4 separate regions of the Homo sapiens genome follow, and regions 2, 3 and 4 are each linked to region 1. Evidence: fine-mapped expression QTL. A gene starts in region 1. Each other region holds a variant in brackets. All regions are shown on one strand. Distances are between the middles of the regions.

Region 1 (8,109 bases):
TCCTTATTCAATTAGCTGTGCATCCTTGGGCAAATCACTTGGCTTTTCTGAAATTCTCTCGTTTCCATTTAGGAAACGAGAGGATTTTACCAGGTGTGGAAGATCCACATAGGTCTCCGTGTCTGCTAATGCTGCAGCAGGAAATCAGAGGACGTCGAATGATTCCTTTGATTTTTCTTTTCTTTTTTTTTTTTTTGAGATGGAGTTTTGCTTTTGTCGCACAGGCTGGAGTGTGGTGGCACAATCTTGGCTCACTGCAACCTCTGCCTACCAGGTTCAAGCGATTCTCCTGCCTCAGCCTCTCAAGTAGCTGGGACTATAGGCACATGCCACCATGCCCGGCTAATGTTTGTATTTCTGGTAGAGACGAGGTTTCACCATGTTGGCCAGACTGGCCTTGAACTCCTGGCCTCAAGCAATCCACCCACCTTGGCCTCTCAAAGTTCTGGGATTACAGGCATGAGCCACCGTGCCTGGCAAGATTCCTCTGATTTTTTGAACTATCAAAAGCAGACCACTAAAGCAGAGACTTGAGCAGCTATTTGCACACCCCTGTGTTCGTATCAGCGTTATTCAAAATAGTCAAAAGATTGAAAAAGCCCAAATGTCCACTGTCAAGTGAATGGATAAACAAAATATGGTATATACATCAAATGGAATATTACTCAGCCTTAAAAATGAAGGCGATTCTCACACAAGCTACATGAATGAACCTTGAAAACATTATACTGAGAGAAATAATCCAGATACAAAAAAACAAATATTGTATGATTCCACTTATATGGCATACCTAAAATAGTCAAATTCATGGAGATAGAAAGCAAAATAATGGTCATCAGGGACTAGGGCTGCAGGGTGAATATGGGAGTTATTGTTCCATGGGTACAGAGTTTCATTTTGGGGATGATGAAAATGTTCTGGAAATGGATAATAGTGATGGTTGCACAATAATGTGAATATACTTATTGTCACTCAATTGTACCCTCAAAAAGGGTTAAGACGGTAAACTTTACATTATGTATATTTTTGCACAATTTATTTAAATGTAAAAAATATCAGATTACTGTATTTATTGTACATCCTTAGCTTTATGAAAAATCCTTGTAAACACAATGTTACTAATTTAATTTCAGTGATGTAAATAATTTTTTTTTTTGAGACAGAGTTTCGCTCTTATCGCCCAGGCTGGAGTGCAATGGCATGATCTCGGCTCACTGCAACCTCCGCTTCCCAGGTTCAAGCGATTCTCCTGCCTACAGAAAAGCTACACTGACAGTAGCTGGGATTACAGGCGCCTGCCACCATGCCCAGCTTATTTTTAGTAGAGACGGGGTTTCACCATGTTGACCAGGCTGGTCTTGAACTCCTGACCTCAGGTGATGCACCCGCCTTGGCCTCCCAAAGTGCTGGGATTACAGGCGTGAGCCATGGTGCCCGGCCCCTCATAATTATTTTTATAAAGTGTTATACACATTTCTCAAAGGTATAATTTGTGCATAATGACATTTGGGGATGGTGTGCTAACTTTGACCTATAGGGCTCTGTACATTGGAAATAAATCATAATAAATCTTTCAATTGCTCCTCAAACTTGGCTGATCATAAGAATCAATGGTAATGATTAGAAATACTATAAGAACTCACTCTACCCACCTGAATCAGAATCTTCTAAGAAAGGGCTTAGGAATCAATATTTTCATGAAGTACACCCCTTGTTCTTATATTAGGTAAGTTGGAAAATCATTCTTAAAAATAAAATTCTGAATTCTGAGTTCAACAGAGAGAAACACAGGGGATCAGCAGCAACCTCTGCACCCTTCAATAACACCTCAAGCTCCAGTCTGCCCATCAGGCTCTCCAGAAAGGTAGAATGACAGCTTCACTAATACCCCTTCCTGGGAAAAGCGGCGCTGTCCTGAATTACTGCAGATACTTCTGCAACAGTGGATAGAAGACTGTACCAGGAAGAGAATAACTGGATGAGATAACTCAACAAGTGATCACATCAATTAGATAAGAAGGGTGATGTGATCAGAAGACAATGGAGCCAGGATTAAGCCAACATCAGGCTGACCCCTCAATTTCCTTAGGCGTCTCTCCTTAGCACTTTACCAGGAATAGGTGCCCAGGCAAGCATTTTTCAAGCTTCCAAATGCCAAGGAGTTTGAAATGACAAGTTAGTTTTTGGCCTGGTTATAGAAATACTGAATTTTCTCATATCTTAAGCTTTTTGGATGACCTAATATATGAATAAATATTTTTCCTCTTCTTCCAACTACTCTCACCTTTATATTGGTGTGCCACATTTGTTCCCATATGTAATCAAAGAATGGTAGAAGTGAGTAGGCAGCAGTTAAGATTGGAATGTAAGGATTTTTAAAAATAAGTTTACCTTGGAACAATCTAAAGAGGAAAGCTATGTGCTATTATAATCCTTACAGTCTTTATTTCTAATATGCCTATCTTACTGAAACTGATCCAGTAGTCCCATAGACAGTTTTTCTTAAATATAGAAATTAATCCTTCTGGTTTTAAAGCTTGAAACTCACCAGATCCAGACAATGAGATACCAGCCTCTCATTCATTGTAATTGCTCCCTTACTCCTTCCACATTCTTGTTTTCCCATACATATTTAACATTTCTTCCCCGCTATATAAACCTCTAATTTTAGTTGATCAGGAAGATGGATTTGAGACTGAGCTCCCATTTCCTGGACTGCAGCACCTGATTAAAGCCTTCTTCCTTGGCAATACTTGTTGTCTCAGTCGTTGGCTTTCTGTGCAGCAAATAGCAGGACCTAAACTGAACCCCTGGTGTTTCAGTAACATTATTTTTTACTTGTTAATCATTCACATAACCTTTTCCTCTCCTCCTTACTTTCTTCCCCATGCTCACTCACTCTCTTGCTCAGTACTGCTCTCTGTCTCTGTCTGTCTCTCTTTATCTCTCTCTAACACACACACATACACACAAATTCAGACACACAGACTCATATTTAATGATGGACTATAGCCTACCAATTGGTATGAATTTTACCTTTTGGGCCAACTCTAAAAAGAGTGCTTCGGGCTGGGCGTGGTGACTCATGCCTGTAATCTCAGCACTTTAGGAGGCCGAGGCAGGCGGTTCATGAGGTCAGGAGATCGAGATCATCCTGGCTAACACAGTGAAACCCCATCTCTACTAAAAATACAAAAACTTAGCTGGGCGTGGTGGCACGTGCCTGTAGTCCCAGATACTCAGGAGGCTGAGGCAGGAGAATCGCTTAAACCCAGGAGGTGGAAGTTGCAGTGAGCTGAGATCGTGCCATTACACTCCAGCCTGGGTGACAAAGGGAGACTCCATCTCAAAAATAATAATAATAATAATAATAATAATAATAATAATAATAAATAAATAGAGTGCTTTTGCATAAACAAAAGTTTGAACATTCTGGCCCGTCCTCACATGAACCTAGGGCTGGCAGAAGCATGAGCATTTGTCACTCATGAGAAACACAGGGTCCTATGCCTTTTTGTGTCTCCACACCTCCCATCTGTGCTTTGCTTTTGATACGGGAGGCGGGCAGGGAAGTGCTGGGTAGAGAAGAATGGGGTCCCTGGCTAGGGCTCCACCCTCAGGCCTGTACCCATGGACGTAAGTGAGAACAGGCACTCCTGTTTTCACGCCCAAATGTTGCATTTTCCAAAAGCACTCTGGCCCGCCACACCCCCATCCTCTGCCTATAAAAACCCTGAGACCCTAGCGGGCACAGACACAAGCGGCTGGACATCAAGAGGAACACACTGGCAGAATACACTGACAGACTGGCAGGACATCAACAGCAGTATGATGTGGACCACGTAGAATTTGCCTGGGGGTGGTTGGAGGAGAGTCAGGCCACTGAGCGGCCTGACTCCAGGGGAAGACCGCCTTCCCATTCCATTCCCCTTGTGGATCCCATCCATCTGCTGAGAGCTACTTCCACCAGTCAATAAAACTGTGCACCCATTCTCCAAGCCTACATGTGATTCAATTTTTCTGGTACATTAAGGCAAGAACCTTGGGATACAGAAAGCCCTCTGTCCTTGCGATAAGGCAGAGGATCTAATTGAGCTGATTAACACAAGCCACCTGCGGATGGCTAAGCTGAAAGACTGCACTGTAACACACTCCCACTGGGGCTTCTGGAGCTGTAAACACTCAACCCTAGGTGCTGCCATGGGGTAGGAGCCCATGCTCCCCATGACCTGCCCGTCTGCATGCTCCCTCTAGGGGTTTGAGCTGCAGGGTACTGAAGAAGCGAGTCACACCCATCGCACGCCCTGCAAGGGTGTTTCCAAGTTTCACTTTGAGTCACACTGCATTAAGAAGATCCACTACCTTGCATCCCCTTCTTCCTGAAGAGGCCTACAAAGTCAGACCAGCACTTAGTGTTAACAGATCAAGAGAGCCCAGCTTGACTCTACCAGCTGAGCAATATAGGTGGATACAGAAGTCACCTTTCATGTGTTCTAACAAATGAGTAACTCCAAAAAAATAGTTGTAATATTTTAATAATGTAAGTTCTTGCCACTACTCAGAGCTATAAAATGTTCAGCTATCACCTGCACTATCACGTACACACTGAGCTATGTAACGAGAATTACATTCAGCCAATGTCTGCTAAATAAAGGTTTGTGCATTTTAGTTCAATGATGTAGCTACAAAGAAAATGAAGCCTCAAGACACTAGAACCTTCTGAGATGCAAAGCTTTGAGTCCTTGACTTTGAATTCAATGTCTAAATTCTAATACATTATTATTATATCTGCCTTAAGATTGATATAGGAAATTTTTTTTCTAGTTAGTGTTATTTCTTCTAGGAGCTTAAAAAAGGTAACTAAGGAAGAATTAAATGTTCCAAAGATATATTATGGTAAACATGTATGTACATACATGGGTATTTGTCACACTTGTCAGAATCTTCTTCCTTTGAGAGGTGCAAACGTTAGCTGTCTGAGATCCACCCTGTTTCAAACTTACCTTATGCTTCCTGTGTACTGTGAGGCTCCCAGTCTTGCTGTCTTTCAATGGGGCAGCCACTGCTCAGTTGCTGCCATTCAGAAATATGAACCCAGTATCACCAGAACTTTTGATTTTTCAAGAGAAACCAAGATTCCAGATTTGTAGGTGATATCTTCCATTTTTCAGATAAAACAAAGGAACCAGAACCACATCCACTGATCGGATTTGCCTGGGGAGGAGGGGTGCTCTCTCCTTTGATCTTCTCTTCTGGAAGAGATGGACCAAAAGCCTCTCCAGCAATAATCCGTAAATATCACTTTTTACCTTTTCTCTATAAAACTCTAACTTTTCTGATATTAAGATAAAATTCTTTCATTGAGAAAAATTTAAGAGTGGCAGATTACAAACAAAAAACATTAATTCCTCCAAACAGAGATTGCCACTTCTGCCTTCTAGTATATGCTTTCCCAGCCTTTGTGTAACCAAGCATTTCATTCTACTTTTATTTTATTCTTTCCACAAATCTGAATCATACTATTTTAAATTTATTTGCAGTTAACCATATCCATGACTGTTTCTCTCTACATAGTTATTTGTCTAGATACAATTTTTGATTACTACATAGTATTTTATTTTAAATATAAATTACTGTAATTCATTGGCCAATTCCTATTGCTGGAAATTTTATCTGTCCAATTTATTTGCTATTCGGACCATTGCTATGGCACACATCTTTGTGTTCATTTCTGTTAATGTCTTTAGGCACATTCTTAGAAATGCTATTTTGGGGTCAGAATGTAGAAATATTTTTAATGTTTTTGGCTTGCATTAGTACCCTTTAAAGTTGGATAGATTGGATTCAAATCACTTTTACCTTTACAAGCAAAGGAACCTTAGGCGAGTTACCCTGTAAACTCCAGGACTTTCAATTATAAAATGGGAATAATATGACAGGGCAAGTTGTGCCACTTTATACTCCCCTTAGCAGTGTGTAAGAGAACAACTGACCTTGCATTCTTGCTAATTTTCACCTTTTCCAATGGAATAAATGAAGATGGTATTTAATTATTTTTATTACAAATAATGTAGATTTTTCAGATACTGGTTTAAAATTTTGTTCAAGAGTTACCTATTCCTATTTTTTTCTATTGGTGTATTAATTTTTTAGTTGGTTTTATGGATTATAGAGTTGACCCTTGAACAACATGTGTTGGAACCTCTCAGGTCCACTTACATGCAGATTTTCTTCTGCCTCTGCCACCCCTGAGACAGCAAGACCAACTCTCCTCTTCCTCCTCCTCCTCCTCAGCCTACTCACTGCAAGACGACGAGTATGAAGATCTTTATGATGATCCACTTCCATGTAATAAATAGTAAATGTTTTCTCTTCCTTGTTATTTGCTTAATAACATTTTCTTTCCTCTAACTCATTTTATTGTAACAGTACTGTATATAATATATATAACATACAAAATATGTGTTAATTGTCTATGTTATCAGTTAAGATTCTGATCAATAGTAGGCTATTAGTAGTTAAGTTTGGGGGTAGTCAAAAGTTACTTGCAAATTTTCAACTGCATAGCAGAGTCAGCGTCCCAACCCCTGTGTCGTTCAAGGGTCCACTGTGATATATATGTGTACACATGCGTTTTTCCTTTTTAGTCAAATCTATCAATATTTTATTTTTATTATGTAATCTTAGATTATTTTAAACTCTTTTTAATTTTTCATATTTACATATTTAACTTATCTGAGGAATTTATTGTGTAGGTGTTATGAGGCATTATCCCAACAAAATATATTGACTAATCCCTTCTTTGTCACCAATTTTAAAGATCTTTTCACTGGCTGGGCGTGGTGGCTCATGCCTGTAATCCCAGCACTTTGGGAGGCCAAGGTGGGCAGATCACAAGGTCAGGAGATCGAGACCATCCTGGCTAACACAGTGAAACCCCGTCTCTACTAAAAACACAAAAAAATTAGCTGGGCGTGGTGGTGGGCACCCGTAGTCCCAGCTACTCGGGAGGTTGAGGCAGGAGAATGGCATGAACCCGGGAGGCGGAGCTTGCAGTGAGCCGAGATCGTGCCACTGCACTCCAGCCTGGGCAACAGAGCGAGACTGTCAAAAAAAAAAAAAGATATTTTCAGTACTTCCATATGAATGTTTCTGTTTCTAAGTTTCTATTCTGTTTCAATATCTGTTCTCTTTTCCTCCAGTACCATGCTGTTAATAGCATAACATTTTTTAACATCTGGAAGTGCAAGTCCTTTTGTCAAGCATTTTTCGTTCTTTTTACCTATTTATTCTTCCACATGAAAACTAGCCTCATAGTAAGTAAAACATATAACCACGTATGTATATTAATTGGAATTTATAAATTAATTCTGAGGGAAATGACATCTTCAAACTATCAAGACTTCTCAGTCACACATCCAGCTTTTCATAAAATTCAATAGCACAGTTCACAGTTACCATCTCTGGCAGGACTGTAATCTGTGTTGCTGAACCATAAGCTTTGGCTGTCAACGAGGCAGAAGCAGGGATAAACCATAAGTTTGACTCAAAGGCCAAAACACTAGGGTGTTTGTGACTCAAAAGTTCCAAAGTTCTGGGACTCTGGCTCATTGCTATTTTTGTTCATTAATTTAACTAAACCTCCCAGATAAGTGGCTCTTTAGTTTCTTTGAAAATGTAAAAATTGGCCAGGCTAGTGGCTCACACCTGTAATCCCAGCACTCTGGGGGGCCGAGGCAGGTGGATCACAAGCTCAGCAGTTCGAGACCAACCTGGCCAACATGGTGAAACCCCATTTCCACTAAATATACAAAAATTAGCCTGGCATGGTGGCACGCGTCTGTAATCCCAGCTACTCAGGAGGCTGAGGCAAAAGAATGGCTTGAATCCGGGAGGTGGAGGTTGCAATGAGCCGAGATAGTGCCACTGCACTCCAGTCTGGATGACAGAGCGAGACTCCATCTCAAAAAAATAGAAAAAGAAAAAAATGTAAACATATGAAATTTAAGTTACTATGACTGTGCTCACCACTTTTTCCTTCAAATTTATTGGAGGTGTTGTGAATTACAGACAACTCTGATAAGTCTTGCTAGATAAAAAGAACCAATG
Region 2 (8,109 bases), 92 kb after region 1:
ATGATTTATAAGACTTCGGTTAGATTTGTACTATGGTTTACTTGTAGGACTCAAAACCCAAACCCACTGACCTTGTGAGACACTTGAGAACAAGGACTAGGTTTCATTATTTTCGAATCATCCTTCTCACAAGAGCATGACACAAAGTAACATACTCATGGTCGGAATTTAACAAATGTGCACAAGATGAATGAATGAAGGAGTAAATGAATGAATAATTCATATCGACAGAGAATATTAACTATCTCACTCCTCCAGAAAAGGATCTAGCTTTGAGCATATTTGGTAACTGAGGAACATCTCCAAAGACAATCTGCCATGAATAAAAAAAATTACTCAAAAAATAGCATCTCATTTTGAATTTAAACTTGAATCTTACTCAAACTGAATAATAGAGCAAACCTATAGGGATTATCTAGATAACAACAGAATAAAAAAACAGAAGTTATAAAAGAGATGCATTATAAATTTATTTTCAAAAATGCTTTATTATTTTCAAAGGTAATGACAACATGACATTTTCCAAGACAGACCAACAGCTCCCTATGTGGCTCTAAGTCTGCTCAGCGATACAGAATGAATTCAGGCTGGGCACGGTGGCTCACGTCTGTAATCTCAGCACTTTGGGAGGCCGAGGTGGGCAGATCACCTGAGGTCAGGAGTTCGAGACCAGCCTGGCCAACACGGTGAAACCAAGTCTCTACTAAAAATACAAAAAAAATTAGCCGAGCGTGGTGGCGGGCACCTGTAATCCCAGCTACTCAGGTGGCTGAGGCAGGAGAATCGCCTCTGCCAGGAGGCGGAGGTTGCAGTGAGCACTCTAGCCCAGGAGAGAAGAGCAAGACTCCATCTCGATTTAAAAAAAAAAAAAAAAAAAAGGAAAAAACAGAAAATGAATTGAGAGTATCAGTGAAGACACTCAGGACTTAGGGAAAGAAAATCTGAATAACTGCCAATTAAAGATCAAACAGAGAGAAAATAAAACCTTTGCACAATAAGAACATAAATCAGAAAAAGGATGTTGGAAATCAGATCCTTGTGCATTTTAACAAGCTTTCATCTAACGCATAAATTATACCTAACAGTATAACAACACTGACAACTGGTGGCTGGATTGTTAGCTGTGTCTATACTCCTGCAATGAAATGGAAAGTGTGCTGTTCTTAACAGTTGAGCTTTACACATAGGGGCAAACAAGTTGTGTATGCGTGTAACTGTAGACAGCAGATGTTGGAGAGCACCTTCTGAGATTACTCAGTCTACTTTCTGCCTTCTGGCAGGAGTAGACACAGCCAAAATCAGAGGGGTAATTGACTGCTTTGCTTGGAGGAGATGACAGGCAAGTGGCTTATTTTTAAAGGTCTCTACTGAAAAGGGTCTCCTGCTGTACGCTTACAGAATTAAAAGTTAGAAACCAGATTCCTTTTTATTCTAGTGCTCACTGTAAGTGATATCATTCTTAATCACCCCTTATATTGAAGTTTTGGAGAGGGAGTTGAAAACAACTAATAAAATAATCTTCCAAAAGTGGACTGTGATAAATATCTTATTATAAACATTATTGAGGAATGTATATGACTTAAGGGATTTTTTTAGACATAATGCTAATATTACTTATTATAAACCTCAAATGGAGTCAATCATGGTGTTGTTAGAATGACACTGGAAAATAAAATAATGGAAACTAATTTCACTTTATTAAAAAGAGAAAATGTTGCTTCTTTCTTTCTTTGGCTTCCTCTGTGCTATAAACTATATAAATGCATGCTATTAAGTTCTGTGGGTTTTCTTTTTATAAGGAGCCTAGTGTTACTGCTGTGGGGTATCATAAAATGGTACTCACAAACATTCTTATGCATCTCATCTTATACAAAGACATTTTTATACAACTGATTCATACTGCCTGTTAGTATACATCAATTTGTCAATTTCAACACACCCCATCTCTTTTTGACTCTGCCAATTCCACACATTTCACCTTCCACTGCATTTCAGTGCTTTGATCCCATTAAGTAACATATTGCAATTTAGTGGAATACTTACTTCATCTTTAAATACCTTTCCATGTTCTTCACACCCAGGTAAGCTCTGTATAAATTCTGACACCTGTCAAAAGCAATATCAAAATTCCCAGTTAAAAAACACAGTCAGAATCTAAATGCTACAGGTTCAAAACATTTAACCCATATGCATTAGTTATTTCTCTCACAATAATTTCTTCTCTTTCAGAAAAAAAAAGACTAAACGCTACCTACGCTCAATGTTCCACACCTCTTAAGCCAGTAATCCTGTATCTGGTGTCGGGCAGCAAAGAAAATAAAATATACCTCGTCTGTGCTCCATTTGGAAACTTTACTGGCAGGGATTCCTGCGACAGTTGGAAGAAGTTTGCTTTGCTGCTCCCAGCGCAAGGGCAGACATGGAATTGGGGACTTAAAGGACAGAAAGACAGCTGACCGACGCTGTGCCTGCTGGACGGTGGGTTCTTCCCGGGCACCTGGTCAATGAAAACAAATGGGAAATCACTCTCTGAAAGCAGCAAGAAAGCCCCAAATGCCGTGCATCTCCCAGATAACGAGACTGGAGGTGGGAGTGGTTAAAGCATTGGTTCCTTTCAGCATTATACTATTGAATAGGCTCTTCTTTGTCTTTACTGAAGGTCACTATAAAAAACAACCTGTAAATTCAACTGATATCATTTGCTACAGCACTCATTACTAAAGACATGCTTCATTATGTTGTTCAACGTTGTCTCTTTAATGCTTCAGATAAGAAACGTGCCTCAAAGTTTTAATGGGAAGGAAAGTTAGTCTTATTCTAGGAAGTTGTTTATTTGCTCCCCTTTCTGCTTTGGATGTTGTAAAGGTAACAGCCAAGTTGCATCTCACGTCTAACACCTGTGCTTACCATGTATTCACAGTTGGCATACTTTCTCTCTCCTTTTGTCTCAGGGCTTGGTTTGGTTTTTTAACTTCTTATTTACTAATCATACTGATTTTTTAAATAGCCAATTCAATTTTTTGACAGGGATATGAAATTATTGCAATAAAAATAAAACAGCAGAAATGCAAATGTTTTTGTAATTTTTTACTTGTTCAGATCAAAATTAAAACTACTAAATATTCTTACTGTAGCCTGGGCAACAAGACAAGGTCCCATCTCTTGAAAGAAAAAAAAAAACCCTACTGAATATTCTATTTATGTTAGAGCTTCTGAACCCAAAGCTAGTTTTATGGCTGCTTTCCTAAAACGGCCATTCTCTAGCAAAGGATTTTTGTCCTCTGGACGCTTGACTTAGAGCTGTCAATCGTCGTCTCCTTATGGTCCTTTAGAACAGAAACCTTTTCTGAAAACTCTGTATTCAAAGCACCTCAGAAGAAAGGCACCTCCCATACATTTCCTCTCTGCTCACACACCAGCTCAGTTACAAGGACACCTCAATTCTATCACAAAGCCTTGCTTTTATATCTCTAAGATCTACAGAAAGACACAGAAATCACTAAGTGTAAAGTTCACTGAATTTTCACAAAGTGAACACA[C/T]CCATGTAACCAACACCCTGACTGAAAACAAAACGTGGCCAGCACACCCTTCCAATCGCACCTCATCTGTCAAGGGTGACCACTTCCTTGACTACTAACACCATAGATTCATTTACCCTTTTTTGAATTGTATTTAAAATGGAAACTTGGGTATCTGGCTTCTTTCTCTAAACAGCATGTTTCTGAGATTCATCCACATTGTTGTGAGTAGTAGAAGTTACCTTCTCTTTCTTGTATGGTTTTTGTGGCTGTGAATACTCTATAATTTATTTGGAGATCATGAACAATGAGCATCTGAGTTGTTTTTAATTTGGTGCTATTACAAACAGTGCTATTACAAACATTCTTGTACAGATTATTTTGTCAGAGGCGTTTGAACCAGAGCAACTCCATCTTGAGCAGGAGCTGGGTAAAATGAGGCTGATACCTACTGGGTCTGAGACAACTGCATTCCCAGATGGTTAAGGCATTCTAAGTCACAGGATGAGCTAGGAGATGTGGACAAGATACAGGTCATAAAGACCTTGCTGATAAAACAGACTGCAGTAAAGAAGCCAGACAAAACCCACCAAAACCAAGTGACCTCTGGTCGTCCTCACTGCTACACTCTCACCAGCGCCAGGACAGTTTACAATTGTCATGTCAACATCAGGAAGTTACCCTATACAGTCTAAAAAGGGGAGGCACAAATAATCCACCCCCTGTTTAGCATATCATCAAGAAATAACCACAAAAATGGGCAACCATTTGGAGTAGTCATTCTTTATTCCTTTCCTTTCCTAATACACTTTTGCATCCTCACTTCACTCTCTGGACTTGCCCCAAATTCTTTCTTGCGCGAGACCCAAGAATCCTCTCCTGGGGTCTGGACTGCGACCCTTTCCTGGTAACAATTTCTTGAATGTACGTATGTGTTTCCATTGCACATATACCAAAGAGTGAAACTCTGAGGTCGCAGCATGTGTGTACATTAAGCTTTGGTAAATCCTGTCAGCTTTCCAAAACAACTGCAGAATACCTACCAACAGCATATGACAGTTCCAATTGCTTCACCTCCACACCAATGCTTGGTATTGTCTATCTTTTTCTTTTTAACCGTTTAGTGGGTGTATAGTGGTATCACATTATGGTTACAAATGCATTCCATGATTAATGATAATCTTTCCCTATGTTTATTGTCCACATAGAGAGGCTCTTTTGTAAAGGGCTTATTTCTACTAGACAAATTTCCAATAGATAAATTTGGTTAAGAAATGACTTCTTTACAATATTGAGTCTTCCAATCCATGAAGAAGCTAAATCCCTCAATTTCTTTGGCTCTTCTTTAATATCTCTCATTAATATTTTGTCATTTTCAGGTAGAGATCTTGCACATCTTTTGTTAAATTTATTCCTATGTATCAGATGTTTCCTGAGGCTGTTATAAGTGGTAAATTTTTAAAAAATTTATTTCTTATTGTTCTGTTACAGTTTTCTAATAAGTTTATTCTTAAACTAGCCTAATCCAAAATTTGAATTGCTCTGAATGCTAGAAAGTCACTATGCTGAGTCAAAAATCTATTTTACTGGAGTTGACACCCACTGGTTCTGGTACTACCTCATTGAGCTTATACAGAAAAATTCTAGTGTCTGCTCCACATGAAACATTTCAAATCTTCAAATATGTTTTAAAAAGCCATCATTATCCCTCTTTCCACATTTCATCCAATCAACCTCAAAGGTGCAGGTCCTCATCCCATTTTATTGAATATCTATTATGAACCAAATACATAAAGCAGAAAGTTTGTTTTTATTCTCTTTTTCTTTTTGAATTGCCCAGATTTAAGGAATTTTTGTGTAGCAAAATACGGAGTAACTTAAAAACATCTTTTTAATCTCAGGTATTCTAAAGAGCTTAGCTATTATTTGAAATACAATATTTGTACATATTTTATAAGACAGCTTTATATGAAATGGTAAGATTTCCAATTCTACACTACAGTAATACCATAGGGCTGACTTTATAATTTGTATCCTGAGTGCATGCCATATAATTAGTCTTTTCCAAAGCCATAGTCTTTATCCTATTACTGTTTATGTTCTATTAACACTCAGCACTGTTCATTCTATCACTGCAGACCTACTCTTCCATTTTATTTTCTGCTAAAAGCTGTATTAGTCACAATTCATTTCTAATGTTCCGCACATTGTTCCTTAGAAAAATAACTAACCCATTCTAAGGAAATGACTAAAAACACCAAAGCCCTTATGTCTGTGGTTGCCTCTGCATGTCTTTAAGCCTGATACGATAAATAGGCCTAGATATACATACTCTTCCAATCCTAGTACCAACTCTGCCTCCTTCGCATTAAGACTTTCCTTCCTTTTGCTGAGTCTTCCTCGCTAACTGATGTTATCTGCCACACAGCATGCCACCTCCTATGATTTTAATCCAAAAGGAATAAAGAAAGCAGCTTCATTTGAGCAAATTTGTACTGCATTCCTTGAATTGCAAAGAAAAGTGACTCCAGGTTTTTGTTTTAACATGTTATGACATAGGCTAAAATAAATGCAAATAGACTCTGGCTCCAGTAGGTGGTTCAGTGCCAAGAGTAAGGAAGAGTAGGTTTAAATGTGCACAGTATGCCTCGGGAAACAGAGCCTCGTGTTCTAAAGACATTTCAGCCACCTCCCTTTGCCTGGGACCCTATTTCGTACCACTCTCCTCTCAAACCATTGACATGCATGGAAAAGAAAATTTTTAAGAAGTTTTCTATATTTCTGAAGTTTTCTGTGATGAAAATTGACCAAAGGTATGTGATCAAACTCTTTTCTCACTTGCCCCACTTGGTTTCGGGTTGTGTGCTTCCACAGTGAGTAAAAAATATTTTAGGCTGACTGCGAATAACTAAAATTACCATATGGAAGGAATGGTCATCCTTCCTGATTCTTGATTCAACAATCTGATAAATTTTATTTGTAGAACCAAAGCTGTCATCCTCAACAGTGGAAAGATAAGAATTAAGAGAAAAGTGACAGTACATTAAAATGGACACAGTATACTGCAGAGAAAAATAATAATATTCATTATGTTTATGAACAAATTAATCTATTCAGTCTAATGTTTAATCAAATAATCACTACTTTTAAAAAATTTTCTCAGTGAGGCCTATACATATGTATGAGAAAGAGACAGACACTAAAGACCTCTAGTCATGAATAAGAGGCATAAAGACCAATGTTTTGTTGAAAAAAAGATAAAAAGATTTTTGTGTGCCAAATTTGAAGATCCAAATCTACCTACAAGTCAGACAGGACCAGCTGAAAAGTAGCTTCCAGTCTTAGAACACAGCACCACCAATATCCCTGGCCCTACACACCATGAGATATTGCACGGTATAAGGAATGTACTGTTAGGATCTCTTTTATACTCAAATTTCAAACATTCACTGGCAAAGCCCCAGTAAGAGGTGCCTCTACCGACCCTGCACCTGTGCACCTCCAACAGGGTCAGCAGATGCTCTCTGGATAGATCGGATGGATGGCACCTTCCAGCGAGATAAAAGAATGTCTCCCATTCTTATCTTCATCATGCACTGGTATGCTAAAGAAACCACAAAACACTCCAAGGAGCAGCTTTGGGCAAAAGTCTTTTCTCTCACCTGGAAAAGATTCCTTCTGAGTTATCATCCACTGACTCCACAATTCCAAGTTTAGAAGTTCATCTTAAGAAAATAATGAAGCACGAACGCTAACAATCATCTCAAAGTCAGTTACAGTGGAGGGTCTCTGGTACGTATGTAACTGTACTGAGATGAAGACTATATTCCCCAGCTTCCTTTTCAGCTAAAAGTGGCCATATGACTAACGGACATAAGCAGAAGTGGAATCTACAACATCCTGTGAGTTCTGCTAATTGGACTTGGAAGTGCTCTTAAAGGCTGACAGCACACCCACCACCACTCCCCCAATATGTCCCTCCTTCCTGCTGGGTAGAATAGTACTTTAATGGCTAGCCTTCCAGCAACCACCTCTAACCATGATATGGTGTTGGGAATACGTGCTCTGCAAGGCAGAGCAGCAAGATAAATGGAATCTGATTTCCTGACACTGTTAAGTACCATTTAAATCCTGGACCAAGCTCTGTACTTCCTTTATGTGGAAGAGAAATAAGCCTCTTTTACCTTACATAAGCCACTTTATGTGTTTTATATTACACACACACACACCCCCCTAACCCTAATCACTACTAAAGTTTACTGCAAAAACATTTATAACAGTCAGAAATACAAAATAACTAGCCTAGATAACCCAACAGTAGGGGATTGGTTTGTTAAGTGATGCTACATCCATCCACAGAGAGAATATTTAACATTATGTTGCAAGAAGTATAAATACTTATGCAAACTGCAGGTTACAAAGTATTTTGTACACTTCAGATAGAAACAGTCTAAAAAAGTAGGTCCCCACATTCAGAAAATGGTATAAAATTACACATAATTTTGATTTTCTCCATTTTGCTTCCCTGTATTTGCTAATTGTTCTATAATAAACGTATTATTTGGATAATAAAAGTTATATAAACTAGCAG
Region 3 (8,109 bases), 73 kb after region 1:
TTTTTTTTTTTTTTTTTTTTCAGACAGAGTCTTGCTCTGTCGCCCAGGCTGGAGTGCAATGGCCTGCGATCTCAGCTCACTGCAACCTCTGCCTCCCAGGTTCAAGCGAATCTCCTGCCTCAGCCTCCTGAGTAGCTGGGACTACAAGTGTGTGCCACCATGCCCAACTAGTTTTTGTATTTTCAGTAGAGATGGGGTTTCACCATCTTGACCAGGTTGGTCTTGAACTCCTGACCTCAGGTGATCTGCCTGCCTTAGCCTCTCAAAGTGCTGGGATTACAGTGTCCAAATGGATTTTTCCCTCTTTCCTCTTGGAGTGGTAACAGGACAACATAGCAAGACAGTGGGGGTGAATCTCAGTGGGGTGTGAGGCCCAAAGGCTGCAACTAGAGCCATTTGATAGGAATTTCAGGAAGCAGACCCTCCCCACCCACCCTCTTTCCTAACCATGAAAAAGGAAAAATTAAAAAAAAAAAAAAAGAATTTCAGTAGCATATTCAGATAATAGGCACCAGCTGCCTTCAGAACTAAAGAGTTCTCTGTCATTGGACATATTGTGGAGGGTGGCGGATCATCACTTAGGGGTATTTTGACAGTGTGAATCATTATTCCCTTTCATGCTTTTATGTAATCAAGGTAGTTTATTAAGGAACTGTTATTATGCATCCTTAGTAAAAATACGTTTCCTTTATGATCCCAAATAATTTCATAAGTGTCCTTAAATATATATGAAATTTAGGGCCAGGCATGGTGGCTCATGCCTGTAATCCCAGCACTTTGGGAGGCTGAGGTGGGTGGATTGCTTGAGCCCAGGAGTTCAAGACCCGCCTCAGCAACCTGGTAAAACCCCATCTCTACTAAAAGTACAAAAATTACCCCAGCTTAGTGGTGCGTGCCTGTAGTCCCAACTATTCTGGGAGGCTAAGGCACGAGGATCACCTAAACCTGGGGAGGTCAAGGCTGCAGTGAGCCATGACTGAGCCACTGTACTGCAGCTTGGTGACACAGTGAGACCCTGTCTCAAATTTTAAAAAATAAATAAATAAATAAATATATATATATATATATGAAATTTAATGGGTAAATCAATCAAATACCCTTCCATTTAGTTCACTTAGAGTGGCCATTCAAGGTTCTTTCACAATTTTAGTGTAATTTTTGGTGGTGGTATATAATGAAAGATCATCAAAGGTTTTACCCGAGAACATATTTCATGGAGAAATTCTATGTATTCAATTAACCAAATTAAACATGAAACATCTACATATTTTTCTTCTGAGCAAAGGGAAATAAGAATTGCCTGTATTATTTTAATAGAAACATAAGTAGCAAATATCTGAATGCTTCTCTGTAACAGCATGTTCTCAGTGCTTTCCACGGATTAATCTACCTAATCCTCTCAGCAACCATACTGTGGCTTTCGCTTGTTTCCCCTTAATCTTCAGGTTGTAAGGAACTGTAATAGCCAGTCATCTCTGGCTGTTAGAAAAGTATGCCAAATGGACACATCTGCAAAATACAGTTTTAAAGCAAAAGCCTGTCAAACTTACGGTCTATACACTCCTTACATGTAGGGAGCACGTGTTAATATTAACAGTTCCCAAAGTGCCTAGCAGAGCACCACGTGTGACACAGCAATGTAATCTTGATTTTGTGAATGCTGAGTGAATTAGTGGAGGTTGGTAAGGCTGTTGTGATCACTAATGTCGTAGCCTTAGGGGTCTTCATTGGAGTGTGGCCTACAAAGGCTTAGTGATGAATATAAATGGACTATGTTAAGCAGCTTTTCAAAGAACCATTGGTGACAGTAAGGTGGAGGTCTGTCATAGCTTATGTGAGGAGCAGAGAGATTTCAGACCTGATGCTGTCCCCTGTGCTTTTGTCCAGGCCTCCTGCTGTGGCATAGGTGTATCTTCCGCACCATTCCTCAAGTATTTCACCCTTTATATCCAAAATATGGAGTATGGTTTTTGTAATGACTGTACTTATTGAATAGAGTTGCCTGTTGATTGTTTTATTTATTTATTTATTTATTTATTGAGACAGAGTCTTACTTTGTCGCCCAGGCTGGAGTGCAGTGGCACAATCTTGGCTCACTGCAGCCTCTGCCTCCCAGGTTCAAGTGATTTTCCTGCCTCAGCCTCCCAAGTAGCTGGGACTACGGATGCACGCCACCACGCCTGGCTAATTTTTATATTTTTAGTAGAGATGGGGTTTCACCATGTTGGTCAGGCTGGTCTTGAACTCCTGAGCTCAGGTGATCCACCTGCCTCAGCCTCCCAAAGTGCTGGGATTACAGCTGTGAGCCACCGTGCCCGACCTGATTGTTTTAGACAAAAGAACGAATCATTTTCGGTTTTTCCAGGAAGTACCTCCCTGACTCAGCCCTAGGCAGCTGGGATTTCCAATTTATAAAACTCTTGTGTGCCTCCTAAAATAAAAGCAAGTTTGACCTCGCAAATACCTAGTTAACAAATGATCCCGTAAGAGGACAGTTGTCCCTGCACCAAACCACCCCCACCGCCTGTTGCTCCTGCCATTGTGAAAACACTGAGTGCTTAGGGAGCTGGTGGAGACAGGGTGGCAGAACAGCAGCAGCCGGGGTGGGCGGTGGTCCTGGCTGTTAACACTGACCCCCCATCACCTCCATGCTCATTAACCTCCTTCCTCAAAAAACTTTCTTTCAACAAGGCATTTAAAAATTCAGAATGTAACCATTTACTTTATTAGATTATCTAAAATATTATCAACTAGGAATGTGTTACTGGGATCTACTGGATGTTGCACAAGACAAGTAGGAGGGAGTTGAGAAGGAAAATACCAAACACAAACTGAAACCCTTCCCCAAATTTTCCAAAAAATCCTTTCAGATGCCATAGTTTCTGCCTTCCTGAGAAACAATTTCAATCATCATCTCTTTAAGTGAAGTACGTGAGAATCGCCAGCTAATAAAGTCTCAAAAAATTAAAAAAATCGGCCAGGCATGGTGGCTCATGCCTGTAATCCCAGCACTTTGGGAGGCCGAGGCGGGCAGATCACCTGAGGTCAGG[A/G]GTTCGAGACAAGGCTGACCAACGTGGAGAAACACTGTCTCTACTAAAAATACAAAATTAGCCGGGCGTGGTGGCACATGCCTGTAATCCCAGCTACTAAGGAGGCTGAGGCAGGAGAATCGCTTGAACCTGGGAGACGGAGGGTGCGGTGAGCCGAGATTGCGCCACTGCACTCCAGTCTGGGCAACAAGAGTGAAACTCCGTGTTAAAAATAAATAAATAAATAAATTTAAAAAATAAAGAATTTGAGTTTGGTTTTGGCCCAAATGGAGTAACTGGTACTGGTCTAGTCTTCCCACTGTTAACATGGATAAAGCTGGAAAAAAAAAATATGTATGAGGCAACTGCACTCAGGCATTAAGGTACAGGCAATGCAGGACCCTGATCCTTGGTAACGGAAAGACATAAGATGTGCCTCAGTTTTGTGCATGGGTTACTTTCTAGCTCACTGTACAGAATGGTGGGAGGCAAGCAGCATGCGGAGGTCTCATGGAGCTGCACAGGAAGAGATTAAAGTTGAGGAATGATGAAGCAGCTGGCCTTTGTAGGACAGGCACTGGAGGAAAGTGGGCTGGGCCGAAGTCTACACACGGATCCCCTGGGGATCCTTGGCTGAGAGCCGAGACTTCACACAGTGTTGCTAATAAGAATTCAGGCTAGGTGTGGTGGCTCACGCCTGTAATCCCAACACTTTGGGAGGCTGAGGCAGGCAGATCACTTGAGGTCGGGAGTTCGAGACCAGCCTGGCCAACATGGTGAAACCCTGTCTCTACTAAAAATACAAAAATTAGCCGGGTGTGGTGGCACACACCTGTAATCCCAGCTACTCAGGAGGCTGAGGCAGGAGAATGGCTTGAACCTGGAAGGCAGAGGCTATAGTGAGCCGAGATTGTGCCACTGGACTCCAGCCTGGGCGATGGAGTGAGATTCTGTCTCAAAAAAAAAAAAAAAAGAATTCTGGCCCAGTGTGTAGAGACCCTGCAGAACACCTCAGCATTCATCTGAGACTCCAGAAAACAATGCCTCATGAGTGAGAACCATGCCTAAGTTTGAGCCAGGACCTTAGCTAGGACTAAGGACAAACAACAAAACAGAATTGCCGAAAGAAATGATAAAATCAAGTCTGACAGGACCAGAAGATCCACCATAATTTATCTGCCTATCAGAACAAAATTTAACACCCTTTAAAGGAACATAATTTAATCCAGACTCCCCACTAGTGGATCACTAGAGGTTACAGTGAGCGGCGCCATTCCCATTTCCAACTCTTGGTTCCTGGACCCATGAATTCTGGCTATGGAAGAAACTGCACTGTATGCTGGATGCTGATTCAGAGCTTATACAGCCTGGGAGAACCTTGTCCCAGCCCCACAAGGTATTGCCACCTAGCTGGTGCTGTAACTGAGTCTTCAACAGGCCACTCCACCAGTCTGGCAAGCCAGCTGCTTCAGGACAGGACGGTGGGGAACAGGATAAGACCAGTAAATTCCATGTATCATCACCATAGGGAATCTCAGCAGAGAAATGAAATACACGCACACACACACGCGCGCACACACACACACATGAACCAAATTGAAATTCAGAGCTGAAAAGAACAGTTATCTGAAATGAAAACATCACCATGTGCGTAGGCTTAAAAGCATATTGGAAAATGAAAAGAAAGGAGCTGTGAATCTGCAGATAGATTAATAGAAATTATCCAGTCTGAGTAACAGAAAGAAAAAGGATTAAGATGATTAATTTGTAGGACATAATCTGGGGTTGTGAAAAGGGGGGCTTTCTTTTTGTTCCAACTTTTAGGTTCAGCAGGGGATACGTCGTGCAGGTTTGTTATATAAGTAGATTGCATGTCGTGGGGGTTTGGTGTACAGGTTATTTCATCACCCAGGTAGCGGGCATAATACCCGATAGGTAGTTTTTCGATCCTCACCTTCCACCCACCCTCTAATCTCAAGTGGACTCCGGGGTCTATTGTTCCCTTCTTTGTGTCCATGTGTACTCAGTGGTTAGCTCCCACTTATAAGAAAGAACATGCAGTATCTGGTTTTCTAGTCCTGCATTAATTTGCTTAGAACAATGGCCTCCAGCTACACCTATGTTGCTGCAAAGGACATGATTTCATTCTTTTTTATGGCTATGTAGTATTCCATGGTGTACATGTACATTTTCTTTATCCAGTCTGCTATTGATGGGCATCTAGGTGGATTCCATGTTATTGCTATTGTGAATAGTGCTGCAATGAATATATGTGTGCATGCGTCTTTCTTTATATTCCTTTGGGTATATACCCAGTAATGGGATTGTTGGGTCAAATGGTAGCTCTGTTTTAAGTTCTTTGAGAAATCTCCAAACGGCTTTCCACAGTGGCTGAACTAATTTACATTCCCACTAGCAGTGTATAAGTGTTGGAGGCTTTCCTGTGGCTGACCATTCACAGCTGGGAGCTTGGCTACACAGATGTTAGTGCTCATAAGTAAATACACTGAGATATAATGGGAGCCAGGAATCTCACTGTTGAAGAGAGTTAGAAGCTTGGGAAGGGGAAGGTTAGGAAAAGCCCTGTGGTATTGGTTTGGAATTGAAAGTATCAATGTGAATTCATGGTTTTAGTCTTTATGTATGGCTATTTAATATTTACATATATAGTTATTGGTGTTTCTGGATCAACGGGTGCCTTTGTTTATGTAAATTCAAACATTTCCTAGATTTCTTCTATGAGAAAGTCTAAAGCAATAACATCTCCGTAGCAAGTTGCACACCAGGGCTGAAATCTTGGTTTTTTTTGGTTGGGTTTTTTTTGAGAAAGTCTCTCTGTTGTCCAGGCTGGAGTGTCATGATCATGGCTCACTGCAGCCTTGGCCTCCCAGGGCTCAGGTGATCCTTCTACCTCAGCCTCCTGAGTATCTGGGACTACAGGCATGTGCCACCATACCTGGCAAATTTTTGTATTTTTTGTAGAGACAGATTTCGCCATGTTGCTCAGGCTGGTCTCAAACTCCTGGGCTCAAATGATCCTTCTGCCCTGGCCTCCCAAAGTGCTAGGATTATAGGCATGAGCCACAGTGCCTGGCCTGAAATCTTAGTTTTTAAAGCCATTCTTCATGAAAAGGAATTAGGGTTCGTGGAGAAATAGCTCACTACAGGGTTGGGGGCAAAACAAAAATGAAAACAACAACAACAAACCAAGACGAGTCAAGACGAGTCTGAAATACTGTGTAATGCCAGAAATGAAGGAAGTGCTTGCACACTAATAAGGACATGCCAAGAGGGCACGGCAGTCTGTTTGAAGCGACTCCTACTGGCCAAGTCTGGGCAATTCGAGCAATTCTATAAATAATGAAAGGATCAGATTTGTAACCGTTTGGGTAAAATGGGAATTGATTAACCTGTAGTGATAGAAATAAGTAAGTAAATATATGTGGAAGAAAAGAAACTATCTTAAAATAGAAAGCCAACTAATCCATGTAGAAAGAAAGGAATTAGAAAAGTCACCATTTGGCAACTATTGTAGTAGTACTTGATTCAGGCAAGAATCATTAATGGATGTGGAATCTGATGGATCAAAGTTATACAAGGAACAAGATATTGACATAAACTCAAGGTATCTCCTCATAAAATACAACATATATTAATTTTACGTGGAAAAACCTGGTGAATTCCATTTCTAATCAAGTAATAAAAATTATCTCCAATACTGGGACCAGTTACCATTTTGTGCTTCCGGACACAGTGAGAAATGCTAATATTCTTGCCAGAAATGCATAAATCTTGAAATATCATAAAACTTCCAAGGAGAAATGTTCTACAAAGTAACTGGCCTCCACTTTTCAGAAACCGTCAAGGAAACTAACAAGTTGTTTCAGACTGGAGACTAGAGAGGCGTGGTATCTAAATCTCATATGGGATCCTGGATTAGATCCTGGGCCTGTTAAGAATATGACTGGAACAACTGGCAAATTTGAATGGAATGTGTAGTAGATTTTCCTGAATTTGGGTGCTCTTGTACTTAGGAAATACACAATGAGGTATTAAGGAATAGTGGGGCATTGTATCTACAGCTCATTTTCAACTGGATCAGAAATTGGGGGAAGCTGCACAGAGGGCACTTGTAAGTTCTGTTTACTATTTCTGCAACTTTAATGCAAACTTGAAATTATTTCAAAACATAAAAAGTCAGAAAAGAAATTCTTAGGCTATGAGCCCAGAACAGTGGCGTATTCACCTCCTTCATCCTTCCCTTCACATCTTCCTGCTGAGAAAACGGTTTTCTAACGGTATTAATCTAGATTAGTGGTCCACTGTGGGTTGCCTGGTAACAAAGCCACTATGCCTTATGCATTCCAGCTTTCTGACAACTTAACTTTCAGACCTAATCTCTAGGCAATTTATGATCTACCAAAACATTCAAGGAACAATGAGGCCCAGTGGGTAGTATGTGATTGTTCTTTATAGTTTTAGGAAAAGCAATGACTAAATTAATTCACTGGAGTGTGGGTGGCTAATAATCTGATAATGCCACTGTCAAAAACAGGAGGGGGAGTGGTGGTGGAATCCTCTGAGGGGGAAGAGTTCAGGCAGTGGTAGGATGGGGTAGTTTGAGGAAAGGGACTTCCATAAAGTAAACTGGTTTTGCTTTGAACTTGTAGTCAAATCTGCACATACATTGTTTCTTTTTCTTTCTTTTCTTTTGAGACAGGGTCTCACTACGTTGCCCAGGCTGGAGTGCAGTGGCACAGTCTCGGTTCACTGCAGTCTCGATCTCCCCGGGCTAAGGCAATCTTCCCACCTCAGCCTCCTGAGTAGCTGAGACTATACACGTATGTTGCCATGCCCAGCTAATTTTTGTGTTTTGTAGAGACAGGGTTTTTCTGTGTTGCCCAGGCTGGTCTCAAACTCCTGGGCTCAAGTGATCCTCCTGCCCTGGCCTCCCAAAATGCTGGGATTATAATCATGAGCCACCGTGCCCAGCCATATATCGTTTTTCACTGTTTACCTCTGTCTACTCTTAGTTTCTAAAGCACTCTCCTTTACCTAAATTTAGGATACTATGGTTAAG
Region 4 (8,109 bases), 31 kb after region 1:
GACTGCGGTGGCCTTCTCAGACCCTGTAGGAAAGGCCTCTACCTATCCAGTGAAAGTGTCTACCTAGACTAAGAGGTATTTTAGTTATCTGACTCGGGGCATGTTGAGTAAAGCTAATTTGCCAGTCCTGGGTGGGGGCAAATCCTCAAGCTTGATGTGTAGGGAAGGGAGGGGGCCTGAATAATCCCTGAGGAGTAGTAGAATAGCAGATGGAACACTGAGAAGTTATTTCCTTGAGGATAGATTTCCACGATGGAAAGGAAATGAGAGGTTCTAAGAGGCGGGCTAGTGGCTTGTACTATAGCATAGCCTGCCTTTGCTGGTGTGTGGCGATTAGGCCTGGTGGAGCTGCCATCAATAAACTAAGTGTGATCAGGGTGAGAAACAGGGAAGAAGGAAATGTGGGGAAATGGGGTGAACGTCAGGTGGATCAGAGAGATACAGTCATGAGGGTCAGGTGTGGTATCAGGAATAATGTGGGAGGCCAGATTGAAGTCTGGGCCAGGAACAATGATAATTGTGGGACTTAACAAAGAGTGAGTACAGCTGAAGGAGCTGGGGAGCAGAAAGTATATGAATCAGGTATGAGGAAGAAGATAGATTTTGGAAGTTATGAGAACTGTAGAGAGTGAGTTGAGCATAGTTTGTTATTTTAAAGGCCTCTGAAAGTATTAGGGGGGCAGGAGCCACTGCACGGAGACATGATGGTCAGCCTAAAACAGTAAGGTCAAGTTGTTTGGACAAAAAGGCTACAGGACGCGATCCCAGTCCTGTAAAAATTCTGACTGCACAGCCCTGCACTTCAGCTGTGTGTAATGAAAAGGGTTGGGATGAGTCAGGGAGAGCTCGGTTGTGGGCAGTCTCTAAAGCTGTCTTCAAGGAACAGAAAAACGAGTGGGGAAAGGATTTAGGATCTATGGGGTCAGCTAGGTTTCTTTTTGTGAGTTTATATAATGGTTTTGTTAGGATGGCAAAACCAGGTATCTAAAGTCGAAAGTATCTAACCATGCCTAGGATGTAGAAGGTGTTGGGGTTTGAGAGATCAGTCAGACATGATCGGCAGGGAGAGCACGTGTGTTTTTATAAGAATTACGCTGAGACAGGTAACAGATGAGGAAGAAATTTGAGCTTGACTGAAGTAATGAGGGATGTCTGTGAAGCCTTGCAGCAGTACAGCCCAGGTAATTTGCTGAGCCTGATGGGTGTCAGGGTCAGTCCAAGTGAAAGCGAAGAGAGGCTGGGATGAAGGGTGCAAAGGAATAGTAAAGAAAGCATGTTTGAGATCTAGAACAGAATAATGGGTTGTAGAGGGAGGTATTGAGGATAGGAGAGTATATGGGTTCGGCACCATGGGGTGGATAGGCAAAACAATTTGGTTGATAAGGCGCAGATCCTGAACTAACTTGTAAGGCTTGTCTTGTTCTAGGATAGGTAAAATGGGGGAATTGTAAGGAGAGTTTATAGGCTTTAAAACACCATGCTGTAGCAGGCGAGTGATAACAGGCTTTAATGCCCAAAGCGTGCTGTGGGATGGGATCTTGGCATTGAGCAGGGCAAAGGTGATTAGGTTTTAATGAGATGGTAAGGGGTGCATAATCGGTCACCAAGGAGGGATTAGAGGTATCTTATACTTGTGGGTTAAGGTAGGGGGATACAAGAGGAGGACATGAAGGAGGCTTTGGGTTGGGGAGAAGGGCAGCAATGAGATGCGGCTGTAGTCCAGGAATAGTCAGGGAAGCAGATAATTTAGTTAAAGTGCCTCAGCCTAATAAGGGAACTGGGCAGGTGGGGATAATTAAAAAGGGGTGCTTAAAAGAGTATTGTCTAAGTTGGCACCAGAGTTGGGGGGTTTTAAGAGGTTTAGAAGCCTGGCCGCCAATACCCACAACAGTTATGGAGGCAAGGGAAACAGGCCCTTGAAAAGAAGGTAATGTGCAGTGGGTAGCCTCCATATTGATTAAGAAGGGGACAGACTTACCCTCCACTGTGAGAGTTACCTAGAGCATCTGTGATGGTCCTGTAGGCTTCCAAGGTGATCAGGCAGTGTCAGTCTTCAGCTGCTAAGCCGAGAAGATCTGGGAAGGACTCAGTCAGAGAGCCTTGGGCCAGAGTTCCATGGGCTCTGGGAGTGGTTGCCAAGTGAGTTGAACAGTCCAATTTCCAGTGGGGTCCTGCACAGATGGGACGCGGCTTAGGAGGAATTCTGGGCTGTGAGCATTCCTTGGCCCAGTGGCCAGATTTCTGGCACTTGTAGCAAGCTCCTGGGAGAGGAGGTTCTGGAGAAATGCCTGGCCGCTGTGGTTCAGGCATTTGGAAGTTCTTGTGTGCTGGAGATGTGGCTGGGGTTTGTCTCACAGTGGAGGCAAGGAATTGCAACTTTTTTCTATTATTGTACACCTTGAAGGTGAGGTTAATTAAATCCTGTTGTAGGGTTTGAGGGCCAGAATTTAATTTTTGGAGTTTTATTTAATGTCAGGAGCAGATTGGGTAATAAAATGTATATTGAGAATAAGACAGCCTTTTGACCTTTTAGGGTCTAGGGCTGTAAAGTGTCTCAGGGTTGCTACCGAACAAGCCATGAACTGGGCTGGGATTTTTATATTTGACGAAAAAGAGTCTAAATGCTAACTGATTTGGGAGAGGTCGGATAAAGAAAAAGGAGCATTAACCTTGACTATACCTTTAGCTCCAGCCACCTTTTTAAGAGGAAATTGCTGGGCAGGTGGGGGAGGGCTAGTCGCAGAATGAAACTGTAAGCCAGACTGGGTGTGAGGAGGGGTGGTGATAAAAAGATTATAGAGTGGAGGAGCGGAGGCTGAGGAAGAATTGGGACCTAGCTCGACCTGGCGAGAAGCAGCCTGGGGAGGAGGGGAGAGGTCAGATGGGTCTGGAGAAAAGGAAGATTAGAAAGACCCAGTGACGCTTGGGGTTGGGACTGAGGGGACAGGAGGGAGGGAAAGAAGGAAGATTTGGGACAAGTTGCATTGGGCACAGAGACTAGGAAGGGACTGATGTGTAAAAGAATGCCTGGACATCAGGCACCTCAGACCGTTTGCCTATTTTACAACAAGAATTATTTAGATCTTGCAGGATGGAAAACTTGAAAGTGCCATTTTCTGGCTATTTGGAACTACTGTCGAGTTTGTATTGGGGTCAAGCGGCATTGCAGAAGAAAATAAGGCATTTAGGTTTTAGGTCAGGTGTGAGTTGAAGAGGTTTTAAGTTCTTGAGAGCACAGGCTAAGGGAGTTGGAGGAATGGAGGGTGGAAAGTTGCCCATAGTGAAGGAGGCAAGCCCAGAGAAAAGGGAGAGTAGAGACACAGAGGGAAGGGGTTCAGGGGTTCTTACCCTCCAGAAAAGCGGGAAAGGGGTCAGGGCACAGAAATAAGGGGTTGGGGCACAGAGATAAGAGGTCGGGGCGTGGAAATAAGGGATCAGGGCGCAGAGATAAGAGGTCAGGGCACGGAAATAAGGGATTGGGGTGCAGAGATGTAAGAGGTCAGGGCACAGAAATAAGGGATCGGGGAGCAGAGATATGAGGTTGGGGTACTTGCCCCTCCCCCAGAAAAGTGGGACTTGCTGCTAAGTGTGAAGGAGAAGGGGTTGGGGGTTTCTTGCCCCCCAGAAAGGCGGAGAAGGGGTAGAGACATGGAGAGAAGGGGTTGGGGTACTTGCCCCTCCCCCAGAAAAGTGGGACTTCCTGCTAAAGGTGAAGGACCAAGGCAGGTGTCCCTGTGTAGTGTGACACCTCTGAAATGTGGGTGAATAATCAGAGAGGCGTCCCTGCAATGATTAAACACCAAGGGAAGGCTGCCTTCCCAGTCTGTGACTGGCACCGGAGTTTTGGGTCCACGGATGAAACGTGTCTCCTTTGTCTCTACCAGAAAATGAAAGGAATTGAAATTAAAAGAAGGGAGAGATTGAAGTGTGGCGCCAAGATTGAAAGGAGAAAGAGGTTGAGGGATAGTGAGGGAGGTTGGAGAAGTAAGTAAAAAGAGGCCACTTACTGGATTTGAAATTGGTGAGATGTTTCTTGGGCTGGTTGGTCTGAAGACCTGAGGTCGTAGGTGGATCTTTCTCACGGAGCAAAGAGCAGGAGGACAGGGGATTGATCTCCCAAGGGAGGTTCCCCGATCCGAGTCACGGCACCAAATTTCATGCGCGACCGTGTGAAGAGACCACCAAACAGGCTTTGTGTGAGCAACATGGCTGTTTATTTTACCTGGGTGCTGGTGGCTGAGTCCAAAAAGAGAGTCAGCGAAGGGAGATGGGGTGGGGCCATTTTATAGGATTTGGGAAGGTAAAGGAAAAAGGGGGGTTGTTCTCTGGTGGGCAGGAGTGGGGGTCACAAGGTACTCAGTGGGGGAGCTTTTGAGCCAGGATGAGCCAGGAGAAGGAATTTCACAAGACAATGTCATCAGTTAAAGCAGGAACAGGACATTTTCACTTCTTTTGTGGTGGAATGTCATCAGTTAAGGCAGAAACCGGCCATCTGGATGTGTATGTGCAGGTCACAGGGAATATGATGGCTTAGCTTGGGCTCAGAGGCCTGACACCTGTCTCTTAAAAAAGAAAAGAAAACACAAGTTTATAGAACTACAGACCATCTTTATCAATCATACAATGTTATATTTGATATTTTATATCTTTCTCAAGCATTGCTAAACCTTTCTACAATATTTTTGTCACAAACTATTTCATTCAACAAGGACGTAGGAAAATCAAGACAGATAAGGAGACTAGATGTAGTTGAGTGCTCACAGGGCCA[G/T]TGTTGGACCAGGCCAGGTGGGGGATTCAGATGAGGAGAACCACATGCATGGCAGGAGTGTGGCAGTGAGTAAAATCTACCTGAGAAGAAGGCTTGAGATAAACCTAGAAGAATGAGGGCAACTGAGGGCAACAAAGTAAGCGAAGAAACTGCTAACACATGCATAGTGCATTCTGGAGATTTAGTAAGGCTTGTGTCTGGACTGGATCTGAGAATTCACATTGTGTAGCAGTTGATAATAAGAGAGTACAAAAACTTCTAATTAGTAAATATGAAGAATTCAAATTTGGGATTTTAAGAAATTACAGACCATTGACTTTTATTTTTCTCATAGAATTTTAAAATCCTATCACCTGTTTTATTTGTAGAAGTAAAAAGAGAATGAAAAAATTCCTTTAAATTTAAGTCAATGAAATTGGAAGCACCAATTTCAACAAAGCGAGAAACTGCGGCTCAGTTAAAAAAAAAAAAAAGGAAGGAAGCAACAGTTTTAAACTCTTAAGCTTCCTCTAATTCGAAAAGAAATACTGAAGCTTTCTAGTTTGAAAATTCAAGAGCTTACTTTTTCCCTAAGGCAATATTATCTACTTTCATGGGGATAAAATAACTGCCAAACACTCAATAGCTCCAAAAGGGGTTTAAATACAGAGAACAGACTCAGTTTTCCTTCCAAATGCGAATGTTTATATCCAAACATGTCAACAAATCATAGTTATTTTCCTCTTCCTGGGGAGCCCCAGGAACCCAAAGGGATGATAATTAAGGGATGGGCCTGGCTCACAGTTGTCCTCAGAAATAGGAAGCAGTAACTCTCCTCTCAGGGAGACCACATACTGAAGATGTTAATTGGTCAAAGAGACTGACATAGTAAACTCTCACTGCATAGTAAACTCTCACGGTGTCTAATTGTTGGGGGTAGAAGAATCCTGAATCACCCATGTCACTCAATATATATATGGGTTACATTGTCGGCAAACAGGAAGATTATCATGCATATGACAGTTGGAAAATGTGAAATCATGCAAAAGGCAGATATCTAGTATGGTCAAGTATTGAATGTGGACTTGCAGGTCTTCTATATACTTGGTCTTTAAACTATGGGACTTTTAAATTTGAAGTTAAATTCTACATTGGTTCCCAGTGGTGTTTCAGTACCAGAAATAGTGTTTGAAATTGGACATGATTATAGTGTCAAGCAAGATTGCCTTATTTTGCTTGGACCTTCAACTATGTCTTGGTTCCAAAAGTAGCCCTGGAAGCCATTGGCCAGCTCTACCTGGCCCCTCCACTGACCGACATGATTAAATCGGTGTTTATGTAAAATTGGATGATGGATCACAGAGGAGAAGGGTTTATGGCTATATAGGGGGATAAATTGTGAGGAGCTGCAATTAGAAAAAATGAGCTACTTTTCTTATTTTTTTTTAATCTCTTTTCCCAGTGTTTTTCAGATTGGATCATTTCTGTTGATCTGTCTTCAAATTCAATGACTATTTCCTCCTAAATCTCCATTCTGCTATTAATCCTATCTAGTACAATTTTTAATTTCAAATTTTGTATTTTTTTCTTCTAAATTTCTATTTGTTTCTTTTAAACAATTTCTATTTCTTTGCTAAATTTTCCTATCATTTCAGTCATTCTGGCCTATATGCCTTTAATTCACTGAACATTGTTAGAATGGCCGCTTTAAAATCCTTGCCGACATCTGGTTCATCTTAGCATCACATTCTAATGATTATCTTTACTCTTGAGGATGGATTACATTTTCTGGGTTTTTTTTTTGTACGTTACATAATTTTGGATTAAATATGAATGTTACAGTGTGGAGTCTCTTGAATCTGTTGTGTTCGCCCAAAGAGCGTTGACATTTTGTTCTAGGAAACCGCAAAATTGGTTGGACTCACGTGGAAAACTCAGTCTCCTGGTGTCAGTTAAAATCTGTTGAGTTCTTTTATCTTTAGTCCAGTTATGCACATGTGTAGTTCAGGATCATCCAGAGATTTGAACAGTTTATACACAGATTGTGGAGTTTTCCCTCATTAGCTCATTCTTTTCTGGGGTTTTCCTCTCCTTTTCCACATAATGGGTTGCCCGAAATCCTGCCCCCAAGTCTTTGAGTCCAGAAATACTACAGGTTTTTCTATTAGAGTTTTGGCAGCACAGCATGAGGCCTGCCTTCAGGCCAAAAGCCATGAAAAGGGAACCTCATCAAAGGCCCAGTGTCTTCCTCTTGTTCTAAGTGTAGGCTTCTTTTCAAAACCTGCATTCTGTTTTTCACATTTCAGTGTTTTCAGTTAATTTTTTTAAAATGTGTTTAATGTTTATGGTTAATGTTTCTGAGACAGCTGGTCCAGTGGGAGCTCATTAAGCCATTCCAGCAGAACTCTGCTAGGAGACTACTGAAGCAGTCCACATTTGAGTGGCGAATACTTGGATTAGTGTAGTAGCATGAACCATGGAAATAAGTAAATAAATACAGAGATAAAATGTAGGGAAAATTTCATGACACTTAGGAGTGAAAAATGAAGGTGAAAGACATCACGATGTTAAGCTTGAGTTGCTAACAGAAACGGGTACAGTAAAAGAAACAAGGAAATTGGAATTCTGTGTTAGTCCGCACAGGCTGCCAAACAAATACCATAGACTTGGTGACCTAAACATAGAAATTTATTTTTTGGTGGTTCTAGAGGCCGTAAGCCTGAGATCAAGGCACTGACCTCTTCCATTTCTGTTGAGGACCCTCTTTTTCACTTGCAGATGGCTACATTTTCTCTCTGACCTCACATGGCATACAGATCTTTTAAGAATACCAATCCCGTCATCTCAGGGCCCAACCTTATGATTTCATTTAACTAAATTACTTCCATAAAGGTCTGTCTCCAAGTACAGTCACGTTGGAGGTTAGGGCTTCAACATATAGAATTTGAAAGGAACACAATTCAGTTCCTAGAAAATGAGAGCCTAGTTTTTGTTTTTTGGTTTTTTTTTTTTTTTGGTTTTTTTAAAGATTGTGAATTATTTTGGATTTGTTGAGTATGAGATGAACAATGTACAAGTTGTTGTTGGAGATCTAAGATGGAGCATGGAGAACAGATTATTGATGATAGATTTACAATCCATCAACATAAAGCTCAGAGCTGAGGCCATGGGGCTGGATGAGTTCTCTGAGGAAGAAAGCAAAAATCAATACAGAGGATTAAGGGGGCAGGAACCAAGCCATGTGCAAATTCTCACAGAAAGTAAAGGAGGTATAAATCAGCAAATAAACAAGTTGTCAGAGAGATTGGAAGAGAAGCAGGAAAATGAAACAGTGTCAAGGAAGTTAAGGAAGAAAAGGGGTG

What was found.
Region 2: its variant is fine-mapped to the expression of SAMD3 in whole blood (TOPMed, PIP above 0.99). The same link has a PIP of 0.9 or more in blood mononuclear cells.
Region 3: its variant is fine-mapped to the expression of SAMD3 in whole blood (TOPMed, PIP above 0.99).
Region 4: its variant is fine-mapped to the expression of SAMD3 in whole blood (TOPMed, PIP above 0.99).

Annotation. Positions count from the first base shown.
Region 1 is chr6:130,219,876-130,227,984 of GRCh38, reverse strand. It overlaps SAMD3 (sterile alpha motif domain containing 3), which reads left to right and starts at 5,034. Exons shown (of 12, transcript NM_001017373.4): 1 at 5,034-5,291. RefSeq lists an enhancer at 4,318-4,427.
Region 2 is chr6:130,127,840-130,135,948 of GRCh38, reverse strand. L3MBTL3 (L3MBTL histone methyl-lysine binding protein 3) reads right to left here. Exons shown (of 23, transcript NM_032438.4): 21 at 2,328-2,497; 22 at 2,044-2,106. Among named protein-coding and RNA genes, the nearest start is that of SAMD3, 91 kb to the left of the region's middle. The variant C/T (reference allele first, on the strand shown) is at 3,540.
Region 3 is chr6:130,146,607-130,154,715 of GRCh38, reverse strand. All of the region lies in intron 9 of SAMD3 (sterile alpha motif domain containing 3), which reads left to right. Among named protein-coding and RNA genes, the nearest start is that of SAMD3, 72 kb to the left of the region's middle. RefSeq lists an enhancer at 1,451-2,071. The variant A/G (reference allele first, on the strand shown) is at 3,051.
Region 4 is chr6:130,188,757-130,196,865 of GRCh38, reverse strand. The region is part of intron 5 of SAMD3 (sterile alpha motif domain containing 3); the gene reads left to right. Among named protein-coding and RNA genes, the nearest start is that of SAMD3, 30 kb to the left of the region's middle. RefSeq lists an enhancer at 1,704-2,204. The variant G/T (reference allele first, on the strand shown) is at 4,769.